3 separate regions of the Homo sapiens genome follow, and all the other regions are linked to region 2. Evidence: fine-mapped expression QTL. A gene starts in region 2. Each other region holds a variant in brackets. All regions are shown on one strand. Distances are between the middles of the regions.

Region 1 (8,175 bases), 44 kb after region 2:
CCTGAGGAGGAGGCAGAGAGGGGGCTTCGGTGACACATGATGCTGACTGGGTCAAATCCCTTGAGGACCAAGACTTGGCCTTGGCATTCAGTAACATAGTGGTCACTGGAGACCTTGACAAGAGGTGTCAGTGGGGCCAGGCGCAGTGCCTCATGCCTGTAATCCCAGCACTTTGGGAGGCCGAGGCGGGCGGATCACCTAAGGTCGGGAGTTTGAGACCAGCTTGACCAACATGGAGAAACCCTGTCTTTAGTAAAAATACAAAATTAGCCAGGCATGGTGGCACATGCCTGTAATCCCTGCTATTCAGGAGGCTGAGGCAGGAGAATCACTTGAACCTGGGAAGCAGAGGTTGCAGTGAGCCAAGATCACGCCATTGCACTCCAGCCTGGGCAACAAGAGCAAAACTGCACCTCAGAAAAAAAAAAAAAAAAAAAAGTGTCAGTGGAGTGTTGGGTGTGAAAGTGTCAAAGAATGAGCAGAGGAGAATTGGCCACAGGGAGCATGGGCGTTCTTGGAGTTTTGCTGAAAGCGGGAGTGAAGACACAAGGTGGTAGTTGTTAAGGGTATTGCGGTCAAGGGAAAGTTTTTTCATAAAGGGTGAAATAATGGCAAGGTTGAATGCTGATGGGAATGACCTGGTAGAGATGGAAACATCGCTCAAGACCAGGAGAATTGCCGGACGAGAGAGAAGTCCTGATTATCAGCTGTGGTGCATTGAGTATTTACAGTCCTTGCTGACAAATCACCCCGCTATTTAGGGAGCTTAAATAACAACTGGGCACCTAGTTTACACTTCTGCAGCTGGCAGTTCAGGCTGGGCTGCTGGGCTCCTGGTCTTGCCTAGGGTTCCTCAAGTGTCTACAATCAGCTGCTGGGAGGGCTTATCCCTGGGCCTCCAGCAGGCTAGCCCAGGGTCCCTCCCGTAGTGGGGTTGCTCACCTGGTCGGGGAAGGGGGGCAGCCCTGAGGCCCCAGGTCAGAAGCCGCACAGTTACCTCTACTTTATTTCATTGGCTAAAGCAGGCCACAGGCCAGCCCAGATTCAAGGGGAAGGGAGAGAGAGACCTGCCCCCTCCTTCTACCCGCCCTTCTAACAGGAGAGTGCAAAGTCATCTTGCCAAGCTGTGGGTATGAGGAGCAGGGAATCGTTTGGCCATTACTGCAAACAATTTGTCACAGCTGTCTGTGAGCTAAGCATGTTGCTTTCAATCATCACAAGAGTTCTTTGGGGTAGGTAGTATGATTGTGATTTTACAGATGAGAAAACCAGGTCACTGAGCATCCAGTAACTTGCTCAAGATCATGCAGCTAGTAAGTGGCAGAATTGGGACCTAAACTGGTCTCTGACGTCAAAGCCCCTTTCTTCCCTATTTTCCCTTCCTGCAAGTGTCTGTTTACAAGGGCAGACTAGAGGGCCCCTCCTCCCTTTGCTTGTTAGGCATGGGAATAATATTTTTGTGGATGATGATTATCTCATAATCAGGGTGGACTGAGGGAGGTGATCATCTTGTTGTGGCTTGCATGTTTACTGTGCGGGGATTGGACAGCTGTATTTATGAGAATCCCTTTGAGGTCACAGTGGTGTGTTATTGACACAGATTCATGTCTCTGCTCTCAGCTGGTCCCTCAGTGCCCTTTGACAGTCTTTGCCCTTGTCCTTGGTCAGCTGACTCTCCTGTCCAGATAGTCACACATGTTCCCCTTCACGCCCCACTTTGTTCCAGGCCTCTGACTTCCTCTGTCTGCCTTTATCCTGGCCCCTCTCTTTCTGGCCCTGACACAGGTACACTCAGCCTCTAGTCCAGGTTCCCTCTGCCCAGGTCCTCTTCCCTCCAGAACTTGTCATCATCAACTGTCTTTTCAACCAACTGGACTTCAAGCTTTCCAAGAGCAGAATCCAAAATGTGGGAAAATTTGAATTAGCATCAGTGAACTTTGTCTCTGACACTGGCTGTATAGTCTTGAGCAAGTCCTGTACCCTCAGGTGCAAGAATCTGGGAAGAGTGGACACTTTGAGCCATCTCCAAGGCCATTCAGGGAGAGTGAGATCTCTTTATGTCCGCCTAGGAAACCCGTGGCCTAGAGCTCAGTTCTGTTCTGTTGCAGTGGCTGCAGTGTGTCCTGGGTGTATACCTGACAGCCCTGCATTTTGCTGCAAGAGCTGCAGCCTTCTCTCTGCCCTCTCCTAATTCAAGCGTCAAAACCTTGTTGGCCCCAGAGCTAGAGCCGCTGCAAGCCACTTCGCTCATTTAGGAAAGCAGGAGGCAGGTCCTGTGCTGAGTCTGCAATCTCAGCAAAGACCTCAGTGAAAATGTTTTCAAGCTCTCTTTGGATAGAGGGAGCAGAGCAGTGAGTAATTAGGTTCAATCACCCATTTCAAGTCTCTGTGACCTTGCTTACATAGGGAGCCCGGAGCTGGGCCCTTCTTGGAGTCCCTGGGTTGGGATCCCAGCCAGCTGAGTGTGAGGAAGGGAGGGAGCGAGAAGGGATGGAGGAGAAGCCTGGGCCAGCAGAGGGCTGCTGTCTCTGCTGCGCTTTCAGCAAGCTCATCTCAGGCATGACATTCAGGATGCAGAGTTGCTCTTTATTTTTTTATGTAGTTTGCTAAGAGAAAATAGCCCCGCTACTTATGTATCAGTGTAATCCAGGGGAAATTACTTAATTTCCGTCAGCCTCAATTTGCTCATCTGTAAAATGAAGGCAACTAATTACACCTGCCTTAGCATATGAGGCGTGAATACGAGAATGCTTGACAATACTTGGCATAGAGTTAGCCCTCGATAAATTTCAGCTGTTAATGTTATTATAGCACCTTCACATGTTGTTGTGTTTATATTGTAAATCGTTGGTTAAAGATATTTTTATTGTCATGATAGCTCCATACTTTCAAGATGCGTCTTTGTAGTATTTCGTATCCATTTAGTCATTCATTCACTGAGTTTGTATTTATCAGACACCTACTTATGGACAAGGAACTGTTGATTATTATCTTTCTGTTCAGGTTATGATGAGCTGTTCATTTCTTAGTGCTTGCCACTATAATATTCAGAGCTACAGTTCGCTGAGCACCTGTTTCAATAGAGTTGCTCACTTGGGAGATAGATTCTAAAGTCCGAGCATAAAGAGAACATGGCACAGAGGAAGAATTAGCCTTGAAAGATCCCTTAAATCATCTGTAAAGTACAGTGTACATCGGAGGTCATCAGACTTTTTCTATAAAGACCATATAGTAAATATTTTAAGCTTTGCAGGCCACCTGTGGTCTCTGTCACATATGCTGCTTTATTTTCCTTTTTAAGGAAAGCCCTTTAAGATGTAAAAACCTTTTGTTAGCTCTGGGCCCTTAAAAAATAGGTCTTTGTCTACATGAGCAGACTGTGGTATGTCTTCTCCAGGATGGTCCGGGGATCCCCGCCTCCTGGTATTCACACTCAGGTGTCATCCCCTCCCTCTCTGGATCAGGGCTGGTCCTATGACCAGTAGAATACAGCAGAAGTCATACAAGATGTTGTAGCTTCCGCCAGCCTGTCTCTCTTGGATCCCCTGCTCTGGGGGGAGACCAGCTGTCCTGTGGTGAGGCGAGGTCACAGGTGAGGGTCTGTGGCTCTGGCCAGCAGCCCACAGGGAAGGGAAGCAGCTCTTCCAGCCCCAGTCAGGCCTCAGGTGACTGCAGCTTCATGAGACATCTTCCTGAGCCAGAACTATCCAGCTTGTGTCAGCCACTCTGCCTTTCAGGTCATTATAAAATCTGCAGCAGGGAACGGGGTGCGGTGAGGAGTTCTAAAGAATGCCTGCTTGCCTGCAGAGTTACATTGATTTTTTTATTAAATGTTTGCTGGTTACACTTGTCAACAAATCTGTTTATGGAGAGGATGAGATGGGAACATGTCATTCATGGGTGTTCTTATTATCATGCATTTCTTGGAGTTTCCATCATTCCAACCAGAGAGAGAACATTTACCATTCAGCAGATGGCTGCATATGGACAGTTAAGTTTCCTGAGGGAGTGATGCACCTCTTCTGGGTGAGCCAGACATTGAGGTACACCACTCAGTCCTGGCAGCAGCCCCCACTAAGGTTAGGATTGGCAGCTAAACGTCTAGCTTGATCCAACTCGCTCCTGATGCCCCTGCTTCCACTGATACCCAGTGTGGCCTCTGCTGTAACACAGCAGTGCGCTTGCAATCTGGGGAGAGCTTTTGCTTCCACACTGAATAGCTTCAGATGGCTTTGCTCTTTTTCGGTTGTGCCAAGAGGCCCTTCTACACTAAATGGCTCATCCATGGGTAGCTACCATTGACCTCTATCGTGTGGCCTGCTTTGGGAAGACAAGCCGGGTCAATTGGTTCTGCCTCAGGAATTTGAAACCGGACACAGGGAAGCATTCTAATCATTGGCGGGGATTTGAGCTAAAGAATCTACAGAATTGGAACCAGGCAGTCCCTGTGTGCTTCCGAATTATGAGAGAGTGGTAACTCAGAAGAAGCACGTTCATGCATTTATCTAATGAACATTGATTAGACATGTGCTGCATGCCAGGCATTGTTTTAGCCACTTGGGTTACAGATATCCTCATGAAACCTATATTGCTAGTAGGTGAAAATACACAATAGACAGTCAACATTATCCGTTAGTGAGTTGCATGTAAAGAAAGTGCGTGAACAATGAGAACACATGGACACAGGAAGGGGAACATCACACACGGGGGCCTGTTGTGGGTGGGGGGAGGGGGAAGGGATAGCATTAGGAGATATACCTAATGTTAAATGACGAGTTAATGGGTGCAGCACACCAACATGGCACATGTATACAAATGTAACTAACCTGCACGTTGTGCACATGTACCCTAAAACTTAAAGTATAAAAAAAAAAAAAAAA[G/AG]AAAGTGTGAAGGTGATGAGTGCTGTAGGAAGGAGGATAAGGGGGCATCAGGAATTCCAGGGATCATGGGGTCAGGTTGCAGAGCTAAAGAGAGTGTCCGGGGTGGCCTCATTGAAAGGTGATATCTGCGTCCAGTCTTGAGAAGGTGAAGCAGTTGGCCAAGCAGATAAACCTGGGGCACAGGCATGCCAGGCAGGGGGACCTGGTAGGTATTGAAGGAACAGCACGAATCTAGTGTGACTGCAGCAGAGTGAGCGAGAGCGTGCCAGCCTTGGGTTCATTGCAAGATTACATTTCTGTTTCATTTTAACAAACCTTTGAGCACCTACTCTGTGTCAAGTAGTATTTGGCACAAAGCTTTTCAAACCTGGGTTCCCCATCTGAACCATACAACACAGAACTCTGTGACTATTTGTTCAGCTCTTCAGCTCTTCCAGGAGTGTGACACAGCTGATGCTTTCTGGATGCTTGGGAGAGAAGTTCATTCAGTACATCTAATGCATGCCCTAGGGTATTAGGCCTCATTCTCTGCTGGAACCCTGACTGAAAAAGGCAGAATTCCTCTGCCCCCAGCCCTTGCCCTGTAATTACAGACTAGTAAATACTATGAAAGATCAGAGCTAGGATCTGAAGGGTAAGTCAGAGTAAAGTAGGTGAAATGTGAGGTGGGCCCTTGGGGAGGGAGAGGATACTGTCTAGGTGAGAAAACAGTGGGCAGAGACCTGAGGCAGAGGTGGGAGAGGGGGTGAGATGGATTTTGTAGGGCCTGTCACAGCCTTGAGTTTAAGAACACTTAAACTCAGTCTCAAGCTAAATAGCCATTAAGTGTTTGGAGAGAGAGAGAGAGAGAGAAACTGATTGAGAGGATACGAGATTTGTGCTTTGAAAAATTGATGAGATTGCCCTGGCTGCAGTGGGAGAAAGCCTTGGAATGGCAAGAATGGAATTCTTAAGCTGCCTTGTATTTGCAGGCAGATAAGGGTGGTGGCAGTGGGACAGATTCCCTGGATATAATGGAAACTCCAAGAGGACTTGGGAATGGATGGGATCTGGGGTTTGGAAAGGTATTGTCAAAAGACAACATTACAACAATGTAAAGACCTGAATTGGCTTTTACTTGTGATTCCAGAATTGAGAAACACTTGAATAGAATTGAGTGTTCTGATGGGCCAAGCAGAGGAGGTTGGTTTTATAGAAAGAAAAGGACTGAGGAAAGCAGAAACAGAAAATAAAAAGCAGATTGGTTGTTTCAGAGTTACTTTTCTTATAAAGGTTAAAGCAGAGGGGACTTTCTTATCATGCCAGCTACAACTGGCCTGTTTGGGGATTTGGCTATTCTCTCTCTCTCCTGATTTCTCTGAAGGTCAGATAAAAATCTTATTTTGGCTTAGTGGTATGGAACTTGAGCGTGAGTGACACCATTTTGGTTTGGTCTATTGGGCATATTGCAGGAGCTCAGTTCAAACCAATGACCTCCTATAAATTTAATTTAACAATTTCTCCCTTTTTGTCATGCTCTCACCTAGGAGACAGTGTGACCAAAACTTAGGGCATCAGCACTACTCCGTCATCATTATTTTGGGGTTTAAATCTTAACACGTCATTCATGGGTGTCCTCATTATCATGCATTTCTTGGAGTTTCCATTATTCCAGCCAGAGAGAGAACATTTACCATTCAGCAGATGGCTGCATATGCACATTTAAGACTTTTTTGAGAGGATACAGTGCACCAGGGAGACTACTGTTGTGGCTAATGACTATGAGGATGATAATACCAAGAGTTTGGAGTATGCCCCTTAGCCAGGGTCCCCATGAACCAAACCAACTGAAATCATTTAGATCAAATAATGAGCCAGATGGGGAATCTACCTGTTTTAGCCAAGCAGCCTGTTTGTTCGGTTTATCCATGTGCAACAAGAAGCATTAGCAACTGTGCAGATTATTTCCTGTTCGGCTAGAAGGTGGCATTTCTGTTACCTACCATCCCATGACTAGGTTTGGCATGACAGATCCGTTTTTTCATCAAGTCTCTGTAGAAGCTACTGATTGTGCAATTCCGGCAATGTAGCATTATCCTGCCAAGTGAAAAAGGTAGGCATAAGCAAGGAAAAATCAAGAGGAGTCAGAGCCTCATTATGATAAAGAATCTTGTTCTGATGTCTTGGGAAAAGCTGTCCACAGCATGAAGTTGTCAGCTTGTCCTGGTTTGCAGTTTGACTGCCTGTGATTATAACGTCCGGTGTTTGGGTGAACTCTCTGTGGCCCACATATCAGGTATGAGACCTGTCCCTCATAATATACATGGAGTTGTCAAGCTCCAGCTTGTAGGGCTTCTGGGACAGAGCAGTTCTTGTGTGTATTTGGAGAGTTGTAGCCAGATGTTTCCAAATAGGAAAGTAGAAGAATTCTGGATCCGTTCCAGCCTACAAATAGTAAAAACTCAAAAACAACGAACAGGGCTACAATCTAATAACAGGTGTACTATAGTTTTTCTTCTGAAACATAGTTTTTCTCTCTACAGTCACCCTCATTTCTACTAAAGATAAAGCGAGGTGAATTTTTTTGCAAAATGAGCTTAGTCTCGTCAAACTTGGCCTGATTATTTACACAACTGCAGTAATGCTAGTGATTGATCACAAAGTTTGCTTTGCTGGAACTTTGGATAAGAAATCTCAGATTGGACTTTTAAAGGACTCTCAAAGCTAGGAAGCCAAACTGATATTTCCAACTATATTCTGTTATGAGAGCAGACTCATATTGAACTTAATGGAAATAACTATATTAGCACAAAGATAAGAAGAGTCACAAATAATTTCCGAATTCTGGAGATATTAGGTAGGGAGAAAACATAAATATTTCGTTTTTGTTCATAAGAGTATAACTTTACCAAATTACTGAAAGCTAATATAAGGAAAAAGGTGTTTTTTTTAATCTGAGAAATAAAACACCAGCAATATGTCAAATTAAAAACCATAAAACCCACAATTGTTATTTATCATTTTATTCTGTCTCATGTAATTAATTTTTGTTCTGCTTGATCTTGGTCAGTAGTTTCACAAGCCCATCAGTTTCTTTATTAGAGTTCTGGAAATGTTTAGCCAGTCCAATGGTATGATCTTAAAGTTATTAGAGACCTCTTCTTGTCAAAGTCCTTTCCATCCTTTCCATGAATCTCCTTGAAAACACAACATTTTAGGATTATAGTTGCTTGCAAAAAGCATTGAGAAAAGCATCAGAATAAAGCAAATTAACTGTGGATAACAGGACTTAAAGCGACCATGATTAGAGATCTGA
Region 2 (8,175 bases):
GCATTCTCCATAGAAGTGACAGTGAAACTAAGAAGCAAAAGATGACTGGGACCAGCCAAGTGGAGAGGAGGGGAGGGAACATTCTAGACAGCAGGAGCAGCTCATGAGAAGGTTCCAAGTCAGCCAGAACTGGGCTTTGGGAATCCGTTTGCTTCATTACCTTGTGTGTGTTCTACTATAGTTATAAACATCTTTGATGAATAGCCTTTATTAAGTAAGTTCTGTGACCCTGATTTACCATAATGTCCATTTGCAAAGTACTTTGTTGTTTGCAAATCTTTTGTCATTGGATATGTCATAATTTATTAAATATATTTGTGTTCTCACAAACCCCTGACTGCACCTAGTATCCATGCAGTCTAGTTTTCTACTTTTCAACCAGGATTTTGGATTTAAAATATCGGCTCTTCTCAGCTCAGAAGCCTAGAAGGGTTGGGGGCAGCATTGAGTGTGTTTTGGGGTTGGGCCTGGGACCAGGGGCCAGTTTTGCCTGGTAAGGCATCTGCCAAGAGGGCTGAACAGGGCCACCCTGGATCAGAGCATCCATTCATCAGGTGGAAGAGGGAAATGAATTTGTCAATCTTTGGATTTGCCTTTGACCTCTAGAGGGCTGCAACTGATGAAATGATGATGGGAAATTTGGCTGCCATCTATGACCATCTCCTTTTTTTTTTTTTTAAAGAGGGAGTCTCGCTCTGTCACCCAGGCTGGAGTGCAGTGGCGCGATCTTGGCTCCCTGCAACCTCTGCCTCCCAGGTTCAAGTGATTCTCGTGCCTCAGCCTCCTGAGTAGCTGGGACTACCAGCGCGCACCACCACGCCCGGCTATTTTTTGTATTTTTAGTAGAGATGGGGTTTCACCATGTTGGCCAGGCTGGTCTCGAACTCCTGAACTCAGGTGATCTACCCACCTCGGCCTCCCAAAGTGCTGGGATTACAGGTGTGAGCCACCACACCCGGCCTGACTAGCTCTTAGTTGTGGAATCGGTGACCCTTTAGACTGTCCAGGGAGATGGGAATAAGAATCTCTCACAACATTAGCAGTTTTTCCTCCTCCCTGCACCTCCCCCAAATCCTGTCCCCATCACTAGGTTATTTAATTTACTTATTTTGGGGGAAACAGGAGGGAAAACTAGCCCAGGTGGTGCGTGCTACTTCTTTGTATTCCATCTTAGACTAACAACAGGAAGCAGGCAGCAGAATTGCCCCACATTGGAACATCACTTGCGTTACTAATTTGTTGTTATTTACTACTTGTATTATAGGATTTAACTTTGACTTCCCAGCTAAGTTGTGAACTCTTTGGAGGGAAGCACCAATTGTGCCCACTTTTGTAGGGCCCACAGAACCCGAAATAGTGCTTAGACTTAGCAGATCCTTTGATTCTTAAATGACTTTTTTTTTCCTTTTTTTTTTTTTTTTTTTTAGCCAGGGTCTTCCTCTGTCACTCAGGCTGGAGTGCAGTGGTGCAATCATGACTCCCTGAAACCTCTGCCTCCAGGGCTCAAGTGATTCTCCCTCATCAGCCTCTCAAGTAACTGGGACTACAGGCAGGTGCCGCCGTGCCTGGCTAATTTTTGTATTTTTAGTAGAGACGGAGTTTCACACATTGCCCAGGCTGGTCTCGAACCCCTGGGCTCAAGTCATCCACCCACCTCAGCCTCCCAAAGTGCTGTGATTGCAGCCGTGAGCCACTGTGCCCAACCACGACTTTTTTTTTTTTTTTGAGACGGAGTCTCGCTCTGGAGCCACCAGGCTGGAGTACAGTGGCATGATCTCGGTTCACTGCAACCTCCATGTCCTGGGTTCAAGAGATTCTCCTGCCTCAGCCTCCCAAGTAGCTGGGACTACAGGCGTGTGCCACCATGCCCACCTAATTTTTGTATTTTTAGTAGAGATGGGGTTTCACCATGTTGGCCAGGATGGTCTCAATCTCTTGACCTCGTGATCCACCTGCCTCGGCCTCCCAAAGTGCTGGGATTACAGGCGTGAGCCACCGTGCCCAGCCACGACTTTTAATGAACTCATTTCCACACTAGAAAAGTTCCACAGCTGAGCCCCAGGGTGCCCTTCTGGATGTCAAATAAGCAGGGCAGGCAGGGTGTGCTGTGTCCCTGAGGGAGTTGGGCCCAGGCCAGCATGGAGGCTCTAGGCCTCAGGGGACATTTAGGCCTGAGTAGGGCCAACCCCAGCCCGGGACAGGTGGCTCTCGCTGGCAGGGTGACTGAGTCCCACATGCAGGGCTGGGGTGGAGAATGAATCCTCCGCCTTGGCATAGACCTTGGGCCAGCAGAGGGCTTTCATGCCAGAGTGGACTCATTCCCCGGCTGGAGCCTCTGGGCTGGCAGGAGGTGCTATGAGGCCACTCCCAGGCCCTGGTGTGGGGTCTCCAATTAAGAAGGGGGTGCGGGCAGGGTGCAGTGGTTCACACCTGTAATCCCAGCACTTTGGGAGGCCAAGGTGGGTGGATCATGAGGTCAGAAGATCGAGACCAGCCTGGCCAACATGGCGAAACCCCGTTTCTACTAAAAATACAAAAATTAGCTGGGCATGGTGGCATGTGCCTGTAATCCCAGCTACTCAGGAGGCTGAGGCAGGAGAATTGCTTGAACCCGGCAGGCAGAGGTTGCAGTGAGTCGAGATCGCGCCACTGCTCTCCAGCCTGGCGACAAAGTGAGACTCGGTCTCAAAAACAAAAAACAAAACAAAAAAGGGGGTGCTGCATCTCTGGTTTGGGGGAGGTCAGGACAGGCTCCCAGCCAGCAGAGCTTGTTGAGTCCTGGTGAGAGTGAGTTCTAGGCCCTGGTGTGGAGCCTCTGGCCCACAGGGGATGCTGGGTCCGGGATGATGCTAGGGTGGGGTGGGCGTCAGTTCCACGTCCTGGGGTGGAAAATCTGACCCAGGAGGGTTCTCTGTGTCTCTGGTGAGGGGGCAGGCCAGGCTCTTGGGCAACCGAGGACCCTGGGTTGGAGCTGTCAGTCCCAGGTCTGGAGCTGGTGACTCTGGTCCCACAGCAGAGGAATGCGGAGTCCCAGGCGGGGTCGGCCCCACACCCCAGGCCCCAGGCCCCGGCGTGGGGACTCCGGCTCGGCAGGGGGCGCTGCGTCTCGCGCGTCGCGCGGGAGGCTCGGGCGGCTCCGGGCCCACAGGGGGCGCTGTGGCGGCGCGGCGGGCGCCCGGCAGGTGGCGCTGTGGCCGTGGCCGCGGCCGAGGCCCGGCGGGCGGGCGGGCGGCGTCGCTGCGCTGCGGCCGGCTCGCGGGCCGGGGGAGCGGCGGCGGGCGCGCGGGAGGCGGAGCGGCGGCGGCGGGCGCGGCGGGAGCGGCTGGGCCCGGGCGGGCTGGAGCGCGGTCGCCGAGCGCAGGGCCGCGGCCGCGCGGAGCCCGCCATGCCGGCGCGGGTCTGAGGCGTGGCGAGCCAGGGCCGAGGCGAGCGGCGGGCGCGCCGCCCCTGTCGCCCCGCGGCGGCCCGGCCCGGGCCCGATGAGCGGCGGCCTCGGCCTCCGGCGCAGCCCGGAAATGTCCGGCAAGATCGAGAAAGCAGGTGAGGCGCGGGCGTGGGGCGGCTCCCTCCGGCCGGGCCCGGCCCTGGGGCTCCGCCGCTCCCCGGGCCGAGCGCGGGTCGCCCGGGATGTGCGGCCCTCCGTGCGCCGGGGCGGGGTGAAGCCACCGAGGCCTCGCCGGGGCGCCTGGCAGCTTCTCCTCCAGGCCCATTGCCTGCCGGGCGCGGGGGGAAGCGGCCGCTGCGGGGGCGCCAGGGGCCGGGCCGGGCGGGGCCCCTGCAACCCGGGGCCGGGCGCGCTAGCCGCTCCGCGGTCCCCGGGAACTTCCGAAAATGGCTCGAGCCCCAAGCAGGGGAAGAACAGCCCGGGCCGCGTGCTGCTGCGGCTGCAGCGATCGGTGCCCGGCCTGGGCTCGGCGCTAGGAGGGTGAACCCAGCTGAGCTGTAAAATGTGTCATTTCTAACGAGCTTCGAGTTTAACGAGAAGCGTCCACTTCGGTTGCTTCAAAGGAAGCAGGCTGGATGAGTGGGGGTATTTTGAGGAGGTAGTCAAGTTTCCCCTCCCCACCCCGATCAAGCTCAGCTCTGCAAGGAGGGCAGGTGGGGGACCGGTGGGTTGGAGTAGATGGTAAATCTTGATGCAGACCTCGTCTCTTTGTGTGTTCCTAGAAATCTGGGGGAGTTACCTTCCGAGTCCCTGGGTTTGCCTGTCCTGGAAATAGAGTCTCCAAAGATTCAATGACTGTCGAGCCTGTGGGGCCCCAGGCTTTATTAGCCTGCAGCACCTTGCAGGGCAAATGCGAATTCTTGGGTCTAAGGTGAAGTGGGCGGGTGCTCCTGGGCTCCTGTACTGGGAGCATGCCCTGTGGTCATAACCCCGGTAGCAGGTTAGCTTGGCGGCTGAATGAGGGAAAGCAGATTTTTAGGGAGCTGCAAAGGAGGTCTGTGGCTTTGATTGTGGAAGTTGCTTATGTTTCCTGGGTTGAATCTGGGATACTTCTGTGGGGTGCACCCCTGCAGCGGACCCACAAGGCAATATGACTTTTGCAGGCTGTGGTTGAAGCACAGAAGGACATTTTTGTAGGCTTTATTGAGGGTTTACTATATATCTAACTCTTAGCACCTAAAATGCATTGCTTCTTAAATTTTTGAAGCTAGTCTGTGGGAAAGAATATGGTCCCAGTTTTACAGGCTCAGAGAGGTTCAGTGAGTTCCGGCTGTCCAGACAGCAAGAGGGCGGCAGGCCCCTAGTATATTCATTCCTGGCCCTCTGACCAGAAGCCAGGGTGCTTTTCTCAGGGGCAGGGCGCTTGGGTTCAGGTGCCATTTCTTGAGTATTTTTCTCACTGAATTTGAGCCCCCACAGCCTTGCCGAGTGACCATGAGTCGCCATCCTGTACACCTGCTGCTCCAGAAATAACTTGGGTTCATCTGTGCAGCATTTCTCAGGAACTTCTTGTATAGTGTCTTGTCAGAACGGTACTGTTGGGAAACTTGGATAATTTATTTTAAAAAGAACATTCACTGAGTTCTTTTATAAGAACTTTATAATATATAAGATTATATTATATCTTTTTATATCTAATATAAGATTATATTATGTTTTATATCTTTATAATATAAGAATATTCTATGTTCATTGTCAAAACTTGGAAATCACAGAAAAGTAAAATGAACCGGATTGGAAATCATCTGTCAGCCAGGTACAGTGGCTCACGCCTGTAATCCCTGCATTTTGGAAGGCCAAGGCAGGAGGATCACTTGAGCCCAGGAGTTTGAAACAAGCCTGGGCAAAATGGCGAGACCTCATTGCTACTTTAAAAAAAATTTTTTTTTTTTTTTTTGAGACGGAGTCTTGCTCTGTTGCCCAGGCTGGAGTGCAGTGGTGCGATCTCGGCTCACTGCAAGCTCCGCCTCCTCCTGGGTTCACGCCATTCTCCTGCCTCAGCCTCCCGAGTAGCTGGGACTGCAGGCGCCTGCCACCACGCCTGGCAAATTTTTTTGTATTTTTAGTAGAGACAGGGTTTCACCGTGTTAGCCAATATGGTCTCGATCTCCTGACCTCGTGATCCGCCCACCTCGGCCTCCCAAAGTGTTGGGATTACATGCGTGAGCCACCGCGCTGGGCCTCTTTTTTTAAAAAAAGGAAAAAGTTGCCTGTCATCCCATGAGCTGCCCAAACCGCTGGGAATGAAATGACTCTTCATTTGAGTTCTCTGCTATTTGGGAGAAAGACCTGAGGCCAGTTCATTTCAGCATAGTTTGTCCTTGGGCCTTTTCTGGGCACCGCCTTCTGCTAGGGGGTTGTAGATGAAAGTGCCTGCTCCCAGAGAAGCTTGTCTAACCTAGCACAGTTTCTAAGCTACCCAGGCTGCCAGACCGAGCGACCGTGCTGCCATGGACACAGGTGAGAGAGGGGTGTCATGAGTGCGGGAATGAGGAAGACACTGGAGGGGACAGTGTTTGTGCTAGGCTCTGAAGAGAGGGCTGAGATATATACCTGGTGGAGACAGGGAGAAAGAGGAGAGAGGGGAAGGGGCTGACCAGGAGCTGCGGAAAGTGTGGGAGGAAGATGCATTTTGTGAGAAGCAGAAAAAGTAAGAGTTCTGAGATTGGCAAGACCAGGGTCAGGACCTCGCCTGCAGATTGGGGATTGCAGATGTGGAGCTGGCTGGAAGTCCAGCCTCCTTGCAGAAGGTCTTTTGCTGCAGTTCATAGGAATCATAGTGAAAGATTACAACTGCCAAGGAAGACTGGGGCGCGCCTGGAGTGAGGATGACCTTTCCTGGTGGTCTCTGCTGGCTATTCTCAGTGAACTTCCCTTTGCATTTAGACGACATTTTGTTAGATTTCTGTTGGAGTTTTTTTAATGGACTTCCCACTATTCAGTCTCCAGAGGAGTATTTGATTCAGAGGAGAGGCCCTTAGGTGAAGTGGTGGCAGAGCCTGACACCAGGCAAACAATTGTTGTGATTGGAGTTTTGCTGTTTTGTTATCTCAAAGCAACAGAAACGTTGCTTAAATATGTTCATAATCTCCTCTCCCTGAAAGTAGAAGAACCAGCGTTTTTAGTTCTCAGTGCTTAAGGCATCCAGGGTTTTTTGGGTAAACAGGAAACCCCTTCACATCCCGCATAGTGTGCAGCTCTGGCCTGTTCCTCATCCCGCCCCCTTGCATTGCCTGATACCTCCTTGGTGTGCAGGACTCTCCTTAACCCCTGGGGGAGATCTTTTGAGTCATTGCTGTTCTTTGGGACATTTTCTTTCTCATGCAGCAGTGCCTGGCTGGGGCAGGGCCTTGAGGGGTTCATCCATACCTATGTATATCCTCAGAGAATACACAAGGTCATAGGCCTCACATTTGGGGGTCCCAAGTGCCATGGGGAATCAAGACAGTCTGGGCCAGAGGGTGGCACAGGGACAACTTGCTGGGCTGGTGGGGGCCTGTCAAGTGAGGCCTGGTGGAGAAAGGTTGAATTTGGAGGGCCAGGAACAAGCTGGGATGCAGGGGAGGCTTTCTAAACTCTACAGTGCTTCTAGAGATGACGAGGAGGTAGGGAGTAGAAGAGAGCTGGACAGATTAGGGAGCTCCCAGGGTGAGCTTGTGGGCAGGCCTGCAGAGGAGAAGAGGCTCTTCCCTAGGAGCTCAGAGGGATTTGTTCTGGAAGACTGATGGGAGATGTATGCAGCTGTTTAGAGGCTGCTTTGGAGAACAAATGAACATGGTTCTGGTTGTGCAAGCAGTTACTGTGGTTCTTTTTGCTCATATATCTTCCAATAAAGACATTGAGCGAGGAGAGTTGATACCGTCATGTTTTTGGAGCTTAAGCACAGACTGGCAGCTGCGGGCTGGATTCAGTCCACAGATATGTTGGGTTGGATCCGCACGTGTTCTTGAGGAAAAAAACAAAAGAATTGATGGTCAATATTGAAAAATCAGGAAGTCACTCAAAAATCTCAAAAGCCTGGTTCCTGATTTCCTTGAAAAATGAGAATCTCTGGTAACTCTGAGCGCTTGTTCCTGCCTACAAGGCAGCTATGGGCAGGAGTCAGGTGGCGGACACTCCCACAGAGCCCCTCACCACTCCCACAGCCAGCCACACCTCCGACGGCCCACTTGGACTTTTGACATTTGCGTTTGCATCCCCTCCTCGGAGAAATGATTCATGTTTGTTTGTTTTTGTCTGGACTTTGAAACCTTTGCCCCATCCCTTCATTGACTCATTACTCCATCCCTCATTCATCAGGGATTGAGCACCGGCTCCATCAGGCTCCGTACAAGGCTCTGGGGACTCAGTGGTGAACTCAGCAGATGTCGTGCTGCCTGCCCTGAATACAGGCATCCTCTGTGTGTCACAGGGTGAGCAGGAAGGTGGCAAGAGATCAGACTTGCAGTGGGGAGGGATGGTCAGGAAACTCCTGTGCTCCTGTGACAAAATGGGACTTAAGGTGAGAGGCGGAGGATGGGTCCACTTAGCTGGGCACAGGCAGTGGGGTAGGGGACCAGTCTCCTGGGGTGGGAGCAGACCAAGGCCTCCTCAGCTGAAGGGAAGAAGGTCCTTGGACTGCATGTGTCAGTTTCAGTCACTCATTCCTTTCTTCCCTCCTTCAGTGGCTTCACTCATCGCCTGCCTCACGGAGCAACCTCCTGAGGGCCTGGAGTTGTTCTTGTTCTTGG
Region 3 (8,175 bases), 140 kb after region 2:
TAGGCCTGAGGGTATTTCAAGTTGAAACTCTTCCTTCTTTCCTTATTTCCTTTTTTTGTTTTTTAGAGACAGGGTATTGATCTGTTACCCAGACTGGAGTGCAGTGGCACAATTGCAGCTCACTATAACCTTGAACTCCCGGGCTCAAGCGATCCTCCCACCTCAGCCTCCCAGATAGCTGGGACTACAGGCATGCAGTACCACGCCCAGCTGATTGTTTTAGTTTTTTGTAGAGACGAGGTCTCGCTATGTTGCCTAGGATGGTCACTAACTCCTGGCTTCAAGCGATCCTCCCACATCAGCCTCCCAAAGTGCTGGGCTTACAGGCATGAGCCACTGTACCTGGCCCTCTTCCTTTTTTTCTGATTCTCAAATAATACAAGCTCAGGATAGAAACTGTTGAAAAGCATAGAAAACTGCAAGAAAGCAAGAAAAATCACTAATAACCCCACCCTGCAAAGGCCTTCACATGTAGTTTGCCATTACTTCTTGATTGTTTGCACCTATATTATCTACCTTACAAATTACCCACGATAGCCTTGTCTTTTCTTTTTCAAATCCCAGGCCAACCTCCCTTGGTCTTGGCCTCTTTCAAGTTGATAGGGAGTGTAAAAGACACCCCCTCCACTTACAAACTTGTTATCAGGGACATTTCTAGACATATGTGTGCATGTGATGTTGCTAACAAGAATGTCTTGTATATCTTAATTTTTTGCAGCCAAGATCAGGAGCTGTTCATTGCATTTAGTCATTACAGCTCTTTAATGTCTTATAACTTTTTTTTTTTTTTTTTTTTTTTTGAGACGGAGTCTCACTCTGTCGCCCAGGCTAGAGTGCAGTGGCGCGATCTCGGCTCACTGCAACTTCCGCCTCCCGGGCTCAAGCGATTCTCCCGCCTCAGCTTCCCAAGTAGCTGGGACTACAGGCATGTGCCACCATGCCCGGCTAAGTTTTTATTTATTTATTTATTTTGTATTTTTAGTAGAGACGGGGTTTCACCATGTTAGCCAGGATGGTCTCAATCTCCCGACCTCATGATCCACCTGCCCCAGCCTCCCAAAGTGCTGGGATTACAGGCGTGAGCCATGATGCCTGGCCACATTTTTCAATATTAGCATAAACCAAACCTGACCAAGTGTAGAAATACGTAGTAGATTTCCCCAGTATGCACCTGTGAAATATGATGTGTAGGATCTGCAAATGGGCACTCCCACCTGCAACTTCACATTGACTTCCCCTTCTCTATGAAATGTTCCATGTGTTCAAGCTTTTCCTCCCTCCTTAGGTCAAGCTTTAGCCACCTCTGGGGTCTTTGGTGACCTTAGAGCAAGGGAGTGCCCACTTGTCATTATCAGGGCTCAGCATGAATGGTTGAAGAGGCAGTTAATAAAAATAGCAAAAGAAAGAAAAAGAAATGAGAAGGCATTGCATAGGGACCTGTTGAAGAGGGCCACCTGCCCAGCCTGCCTCCTGGCCACTCTTGTGCTCTCTGACTTGTCTCTCTGACTTGTCTGCCCAGACTGAGCTTTCCCCAGGTGTGAAGCCAGGAATGGTGTGGTTTCTAGGTTAATACCTGGGGCAGAGTGTGTGGGCCAAGCAAATGCAGCTCGTGGGTATGCCACTAGCTTCACTGGACCCCAAAGTATCGTCTTCAGAGTTCCAGATGGTTCTCGTGAAAGAGAAGGATGAACACTTTGACTGCTCAGAAATAATTATGGGATGTTGTCCCTCCATCAAGGCCAAACCACAGGGTGAACATTGACGAGATGTGGAGCAGGGATTTTCTCGAGACTGGGCAGGGCCCACTCTGACCCATCCATATTCTTTTACTGAAGGCACATTTTTTTTTTTCCCTTGAGACAGAGTCTCACTCTGTCACCTAGGCTGGAGTGCAGTGGTGCGATCTCGGCTCACTGCAACCTCCACCTCCTGGGTTCAAGTGATTCTCCTGCCCCAGCCTCCAAGTAGCTGGGTTACAGGCAAGCGCCACCACGCCCAGCTAGTTTTTGTATTTTTAGTAGAGACAGGGTTTCACCATGTTGGCCAGGCTGGTCTCGAACTCCTGACTTCAAGTGATCCACCCGCCTCGGCCTCCCAAAGTGCTGGAATTACAGGCGTGAGCCACCACGTTTGGCCTAAAGGCACATATTTTTACATCTCAGATACCTGGGGTTAAAATGTGACCTATGACCACAAGACGGGCCAGAATAAAATAGAGGAACATGGAAGAAAATGCCAGGGGAAAGCCAGGCATATCTGTAGGCCCAGCTTCCACTCTCCCCAGAACACCCTAAGCTGGGAGACTCATCTTGGACACCCCCGGCCGTCCCACCTTCCCCTTTGTGGGAAATGTTCTCTCCCATCCTTCAGCCGGCAACTTAGGCTCAGTACTGCAAGCCTCGGCTCACCCATCCCATTCCAGAAGCCTCCCGACCTTTAGACGAGGCCAGACCCCCTGGCTGTGCTCATGGTACCCTTCTGGGCTTCCCCTTTCTCTGTGCTACTGTGACCACTTGTTTTAAAATTCTGTCTCAAAAAAAAAAAAAAAAAAGACTGGGCACGGTGGCTCATGCTTATAATCTTAACACTTTGAGAGGCCAAAGCAGGAGAATCACATGAGTCAGGAGATCAAGACCAGCCTGAGCTACATAGTGAGACCTCATCCCTACAATGAACAGAATTATCCAGGCATGGTGGCTTGTGCCTGTAGTCCTCGCTACTTGGGAGACTAAGGTGGGAGGATGGCTTGAGCCCAGGAGGTCAGGGCTGCAGTGAGCCAAGATCGCACCACTGCACTCCAGCCTGGGCTACAGAGGGAGACTCTGTCTCAAAAAAAAAAACAAATAAGTGGCTGGGCACGGTGGCTCACACCTATAATCCCAGCACTTTGGGAAGCCGAATTGGGCAGATCACGAGGACAGGAGTTCGAGACCAGCCTGACCAACATAGTGAATCCCTGTCTCTACTAAAAATACAAAAATTAGCAGGACGTAGTGGCATGTGCCTGTAATCCCAGCTACTCAGGAGGCTGAGGCAGGAGAATCACTTGAACCCAGGAGGTGGAGGTTGTGATGAGCCAAGATTGCGCCACTGCACTCCAGCCTGGGTGACAGAGCGAGACTCCGTCTCAAAAAAAAAAAAAAAGCAAATAAATAAATTCTGTCTCCTGCTCGACTGAACCCTCAGGGACAAGAGGCTATGTCTGCTTGGTTCACAGCTCTTTCTTAGCGCCAAGCAAAGGGTCCCGTGGCAAGTCGGTCCTTGGAGAAGACTTGGGGAGCAGCCTCAAGAGCAATGCAGCTTTCTCTCCCATTCTGCTTGCCCCTTAGCTCCTCCTCTCCCTAAATGCTAACTGTGCGGTGGGCCTTGGCAGGGAGTGGCTGAGACCATCACTCAAACAGCTTAATGGAACCTTTTTATTTTCCCAGCGGAATCACTTCCGTGTACAGATGGAACATCCAGAGGCAGCAGCGACTGTCCTATGGCCACACAGCCAGTCAGTAGCAGAGCTGAGGATCCAGTCCATAGTGACGTAGCTGCCATCGGGGCAGGCATGTTCCGGGAGCGGTTTCGAGC[C/T]GTGCACACCGGCACTGCCTTGGCCTCCAGGCATCGGGAGCTGAGCCGGTTTGACACTTGCAACACAAACCACTTCTCCCCGCAGGGCCCCAAAGTCACCAGATGCTCTGGAGTCGGCTCAGTCGGAGGAGGAAGTGGACGAGCTGTCCCTCATTGACCACAACGAAATTATGTCCAGGCTGACGCTCAAGCAGGAGGTGAGAACTTCCCGGGCTGGGGCTTTGCAGCCTGGCCCCACAGAGGAGAGCAGGTGGGGCAGAGAAGAATGTGATCTTGTCATAAGCAGAACAACCCTAGGAGGCTTAGAGACCAAGTCTTTCAATGCCCCTGGTGAGCCTCTGGGCTGTGGGCTCTGGAGGGGTAGACTCCAGGGGAAGTGTGCTGTCTCCTTCTGATGCTTATAGAAAGTCATCTTACACAGGTCAAGTTCTGCAGCCTCTCTAGCTAAAGATGCCAGAACTCCTGAGGGTGTGGAGATGGAACCCCTGTAAATGCTCTGCAGACAGAGCCTGCATGTGGCCGGCCCTCACTAATGGGAAACTTTTTCTGTGGTTGAAAAAATAGCTCCACTGTAGCTTCAGTCTGGGAGACAGAGGCAGGGGAATGGCTTGAGTCCAGGCGTTCAAGACCAGCCTGGGCAACACAGCAAGACCCATCTCTAAAAAAAAAGAAAAGAAAATTCAGGCCTGGACACTGTGGATTCCCTGGTCCTGTGCCTTGCCTGCAGAACCTCGTTGGTGAAAAAGGGCCCAAACCTGTGAGAGTGGAGAGGAAGCAGGACAGAGAGTGCCCTGCCTCTCCCTCCTGCCGTGCAGTGCTAGAAGTACAAAGGAGCGGCTTCATAAAGCAGCCTTGGCCCGCACCAGGAGGCAACTGTTTTGGGGCTTCGATTTGATGACACATGGACAAAAGGGCAGATACTGCCCTTTGCGCACTCCCAGGCAAGGATGCGCTGGCTCTGGCCATGGCAGGGAGCAGCCCAGGAATGTGTCTGCGCCTTGGGCTGTCACACACAGGCAGGGCTGATGAGGGTACTCACACAGCTGGGCTCCTCTGCAGAGAGATCCTTGCCATAAATTTCTTCCTTAAAATCAGGTCAAAGGCATAGTTCCTACTCCTAGAGGTAAACCCAAGACAATCTCAGGCCTCTGGAGTCAGGAGGTAAAATACCAAAGCCTAAAAATAAAAAGGTGGGCTAGTCCCGGAGTGTGTACCGCAGCTGAGAGGGCTGGTTCCGTCCCTCCAGCGTTACAGAGCAAGGAGCATTGAGGGCCAGGGGCAGAAACAGGCCTGGGGGGTTGTCCTGGACCTCTGTTCCTGGCCCTAGTCACAGCTCTTTTTGGCTCTACGCTGGGTGGCCTCTGTTTGCCCACATGGAAGCAAGACTTGCTTCTTAAGAGGCAGGTGGGTTGGTGGCAGGTGTGCAGCGTCAGAAGTCATTGAATATTTCTGTCTGTAATGCTTTGCTCTCCTTTAAGGAAGGGCCCCACAGAAGAACCTTGTGCCAATGCAAGTAACTTCTACTTCCACCTGGGGAGACGGATTTAGATGTAGGGCCGCTTGCTGCAGTTTTGGGGAACATGAACATGCTTAGAAATAGTCCTGCTGCCTCCACAGGCATCCTGGGCAAGGCTGGGGACTGTCTTGCCCCCAGGGGGTCCTACCTCACCTCTGACTTGTGGTTTGGTGAGCAAGGAAGGATGGAAGGTGCTATGTCCCCTGGCCCAAGTTGTGTGCTCAAAACAGTGGCATGCCCTGGTGCCTTGGTGCCGGGGCAGCTCCCAGGCCATCCAGCTCCCAGACACAGTCCAGTTTGTGCCTGTCACCAAGCACAAGGTGAGTCTGGAGGGCACCCCTGGCTTCGCAGCGCAGCCACACTGCTCCTGGGCCGAGGAGCACAGAAGGAGAGGGGACTTGGGGTTGCAGGGCATTTTGTCATCTCATTCCTGCCTGTTTCTTCCTAAACTGATTCTCTGAAGGGCATACTCTGCCTCATACCTTCCTTGGCTGTGTTCATTACAGGGTGATGACGGGCCGGACGTCCGCGGAGGATCTGGGGACATCTTACTGGTCCATGCTACTGAGACTGACAGGAAAGGTAGGGTGTCAGTGAGCTCACTAGATTGGGGCTGGTCCTGCCCCGGGTGCCACTCGGCCTCCCACCGCTATCCTGTCCCCTCCTGGCAGCCACAGCCCTGAGCAGGTCTGATCAGCAGTCCTGGTGCGCCTGAGTCAGAGCAGGGAGAGCCCACCTTGGAAGACAAGTAGATCATGTTCAACTCCAGGCGTGCGTGGCATCTGTCCTCCGCTGGTACAAGGTAGTGACCCCAGGGCCTCCAGGGTCCTTGAGGGGCTCAGCGCATACTAAGCGCACCACAGACAGCGCCTTGAGTGATGGCATGTCACCCAGTAGTACTAAACTTAAGATAACATGCAGGTACCTTTTGATTCCTTTCCTGACTGCTGAGTCACTCTATTGTTGCAGACCATTAGACCGGACTTCACTCACATACTCCACGAGGAAATTCTTGAAGGTTTGTTCTGTCCAGGAACCTTCAATTCTGTAGCAGTGGCCTCAGTTTCACAGCACACAGCTGCCCCACCCTACCACGCATTCAGTGTGCTGATTGAGAGGGCTGGAAAAGCAGGGACCGTCCCCTAATCCCTAAAACGTCTTGTTGGGTGGACTCTGCTAGCAAAGTCATTCCCAGTCATGCTCTGGAAAGGAGGTGCTAGTGACCTGATGGGGCATGGCCACAGCACCCTTCACTGCCTGCCCTCAAGGGGCCAGCACCACCTGGCCGGCCAGTCTCTCCACACGCTGCTTCTCTTTTTACGTTTAAAAAAATGATTTAAAAGATGATGTCAGAGCAATGGTGAAGTAAATTGTGGAGGGAATGAAAACACCCCCACCTTGAAATCCTAGCCCAACCCGTTTCATTTCTGTAAGGGACTCTGTCCCTGTGTTTCCTCAGCACGTTTCCCAAAACATGTGACCCAGAGTGACTCGGGGAATTTCTGAATTATGGAAGTAGTACTAAAAAATATTTACATTGCAGAAAATTAGAGAAAAAGAAGAGATGGCTCCCACAAACTCACCGCAGCCACTGCTCCGCCCTCCCCTTCACTGTTCCCTCACCCTTTGTTTGTTCTGACCAGGGCAGGGCCCAGACCTGGCGATGCTGCATCCTAGCCCCAGCTGTGCCATGACAGGCTCAGAGGGCCCCTGGGCAGTCCCCGGGCTTCTCGGCCTGAGCCGACTCCACTTGTTGAAGGGGTGAACGGTGCCTGTTGTTGTGTGGATTACGTGAGGGAGTGTGAAACCTGCCCCGCATGTCAGCGGTGCTGGGGGCGTGATCAGCAGCATCCTGAGCGCCGAGTGCAGCCCTTGCTTGGCTTCTCTGCAGTGAATCCCCCTCCCTGCCTGACATAGGGGGCTCCATACTCAGCCAGGCATGGGAGCGACTTTCATTTCCTTTTTGTCCACAGCGAGGGGCTGAAATGGGAGCTGGCTTCAGACCTCGGCTCCAAAGGGTGAACTCCACTGTCCTGTCGGGTACAGCCAGCTGTGGCCAAGGCTGGAGGGGTCCCTGAGACAGGACAGCCAAGAGGCTTCTGGCTTTTGCTGGCTGGACCTGCTGAGAGGACGCTCCGTGCCGGTGGGAGCTTTGCCTGATTTTACTAGCAGAAGGGTTGGAGGCTCCCCAGAACCAAAGTTTTACGTAGGAAGTATTACTGAGGCAGAAGCCATGGCTCCACTGGGAGGGTGAAGCACCCTGTGGCAGGTAACAAAGCAAGCTCCTTGGGCAGGTGCATCCTGCAAGCCAGAGACTGCACCAGCATCACGAGCAGCTGGGAGCCCCGTGGCTCAGGCCCGTGGAGCCCAGCCTGCCAAGCAGGGCTTGGCAGGGAGAGGCCGTGTGGGGGTGCTTTGTGGTTGCACGGCTCTGCTCTCAGGTGTCAGGACCTGCATGGGAGAAGGTCAGGTCAGCCTTGGCCTCAGGCCTCAGCTTAGATCCTGTCTATCCCTTGACAACTGTGTGCCAAGCCTGTCACTTAGCCCCGGAGCTTCCGATTCCTTAGGAGGAAAATGAGGGACAATTTCGGGGCCTTTTAGGGCTGTCTCAAAGACCAGGTGAGCCAGGGCGCACAGAGTGCTCAGGACCGCATCGAGAGTCCTGTGATCTCTAGAGGGGTGGCACAGCACTGCCCGTCCCAGAAGCCAGGCGCTGTCCCATCTGCCATAATCCAGGGCACAGCAGATGGGGGAGGGCTCTGGAATTGGGCAGACATGGGCGCCGACCCCGCCACATTGCTTGCGGGTGGTGTGGCCTCGTGCCTGGGCTCCTCCTCTCTCGGTAGGGTAACAGGACTCTGTCCTTGTGGGATTGCTCTGGGCATTGAAGGATGTGGCATATGTTCAAGGCATGGCCCAGTGCTCACCAGCGAGTCCCACGAAGTTGTCATGGCTACTGGCAATGATGCACCCGCAAAGGCCAGTTGACTTGGGCCCCTTCTTCCAGAAGCAGGTATGGGTCTATGCTGGTGCCATCTCTGCTTCCTTCCCCAAACTCTTTGAACAAAAATCCAAGCTTGACA

Which allele goes with the higher level. Positions count from the first base shown, and alleles are read on the strand shown. Sizes are in standard deviations (SD) of each study's normalised expression. Not every link is listed here.
As copies of AG replace G in region 1, the expression in Th2 cells of the gene that starts at base 3,234 in region 2 goes down (small effect, 0.36 SD a copy in Schmiedel 2018).

The links. PIP is the estimated chance that this variant, and not a neighbour inherited with it, causes the effect.
Region 1: its variant is fine-mapped to the expression of RAPGEF1 in Th2 cells (Schmiedel 2018, PIP 0.95).
Region 3: its variant is fine-mapped to the expression of RAPGEF1 in whole blood (INTERVAL, PIP 0.99).

The regions. Positions count from the first base shown.
Region 1 is chr9:131,691,503-131,699,677 of GRCh38, reverse strand. All of the region lies in intron 1 of RAPGEF1 (Rap guanine nucleotide exchange factor 1), which reads left to right. Among named protein-coding and RNA genes, the nearest start is that of RAPGEF1, 44 kb to the left of the region's middle. The variant G/AG (reference allele first, on the strand shown) is at 4,881.
Region 2 is chr9:131,735,135-131,743,309 of GRCh38, reverse strand. It overlaps RAPGEF1 (Rap guanine nucleotide exchange factor 1), which reads left to right and starts at 3,234. Exons shown (of 27, transcript NM_001377935.1): 1 at 3,234-3,540. The coding sequence starts at 3,480. RefSeq lists silencers at 3,011-3,270, 3,421-3,470, 3,521-3,850, 7,494-7,788 and enhancers at 7,494-7,788, 8,085-8,175.
Region 3 is chr9:131,593,797-131,601,971 of GRCh38, reverse strand. RAPGEF1 (Rap guanine nucleotide exchange factor 1) reads left to right here. Exons shown (of 27, transcript NM_001377935.1): 16 at 3,662-3,773; 17 at 5,599-5,674. Among named protein-coding and RNA genes, the nearest start is that of PRRT1B, 52 kb to the right of the region's middle. The variant C/T (reference allele first, on the strand shown) is at 3,577.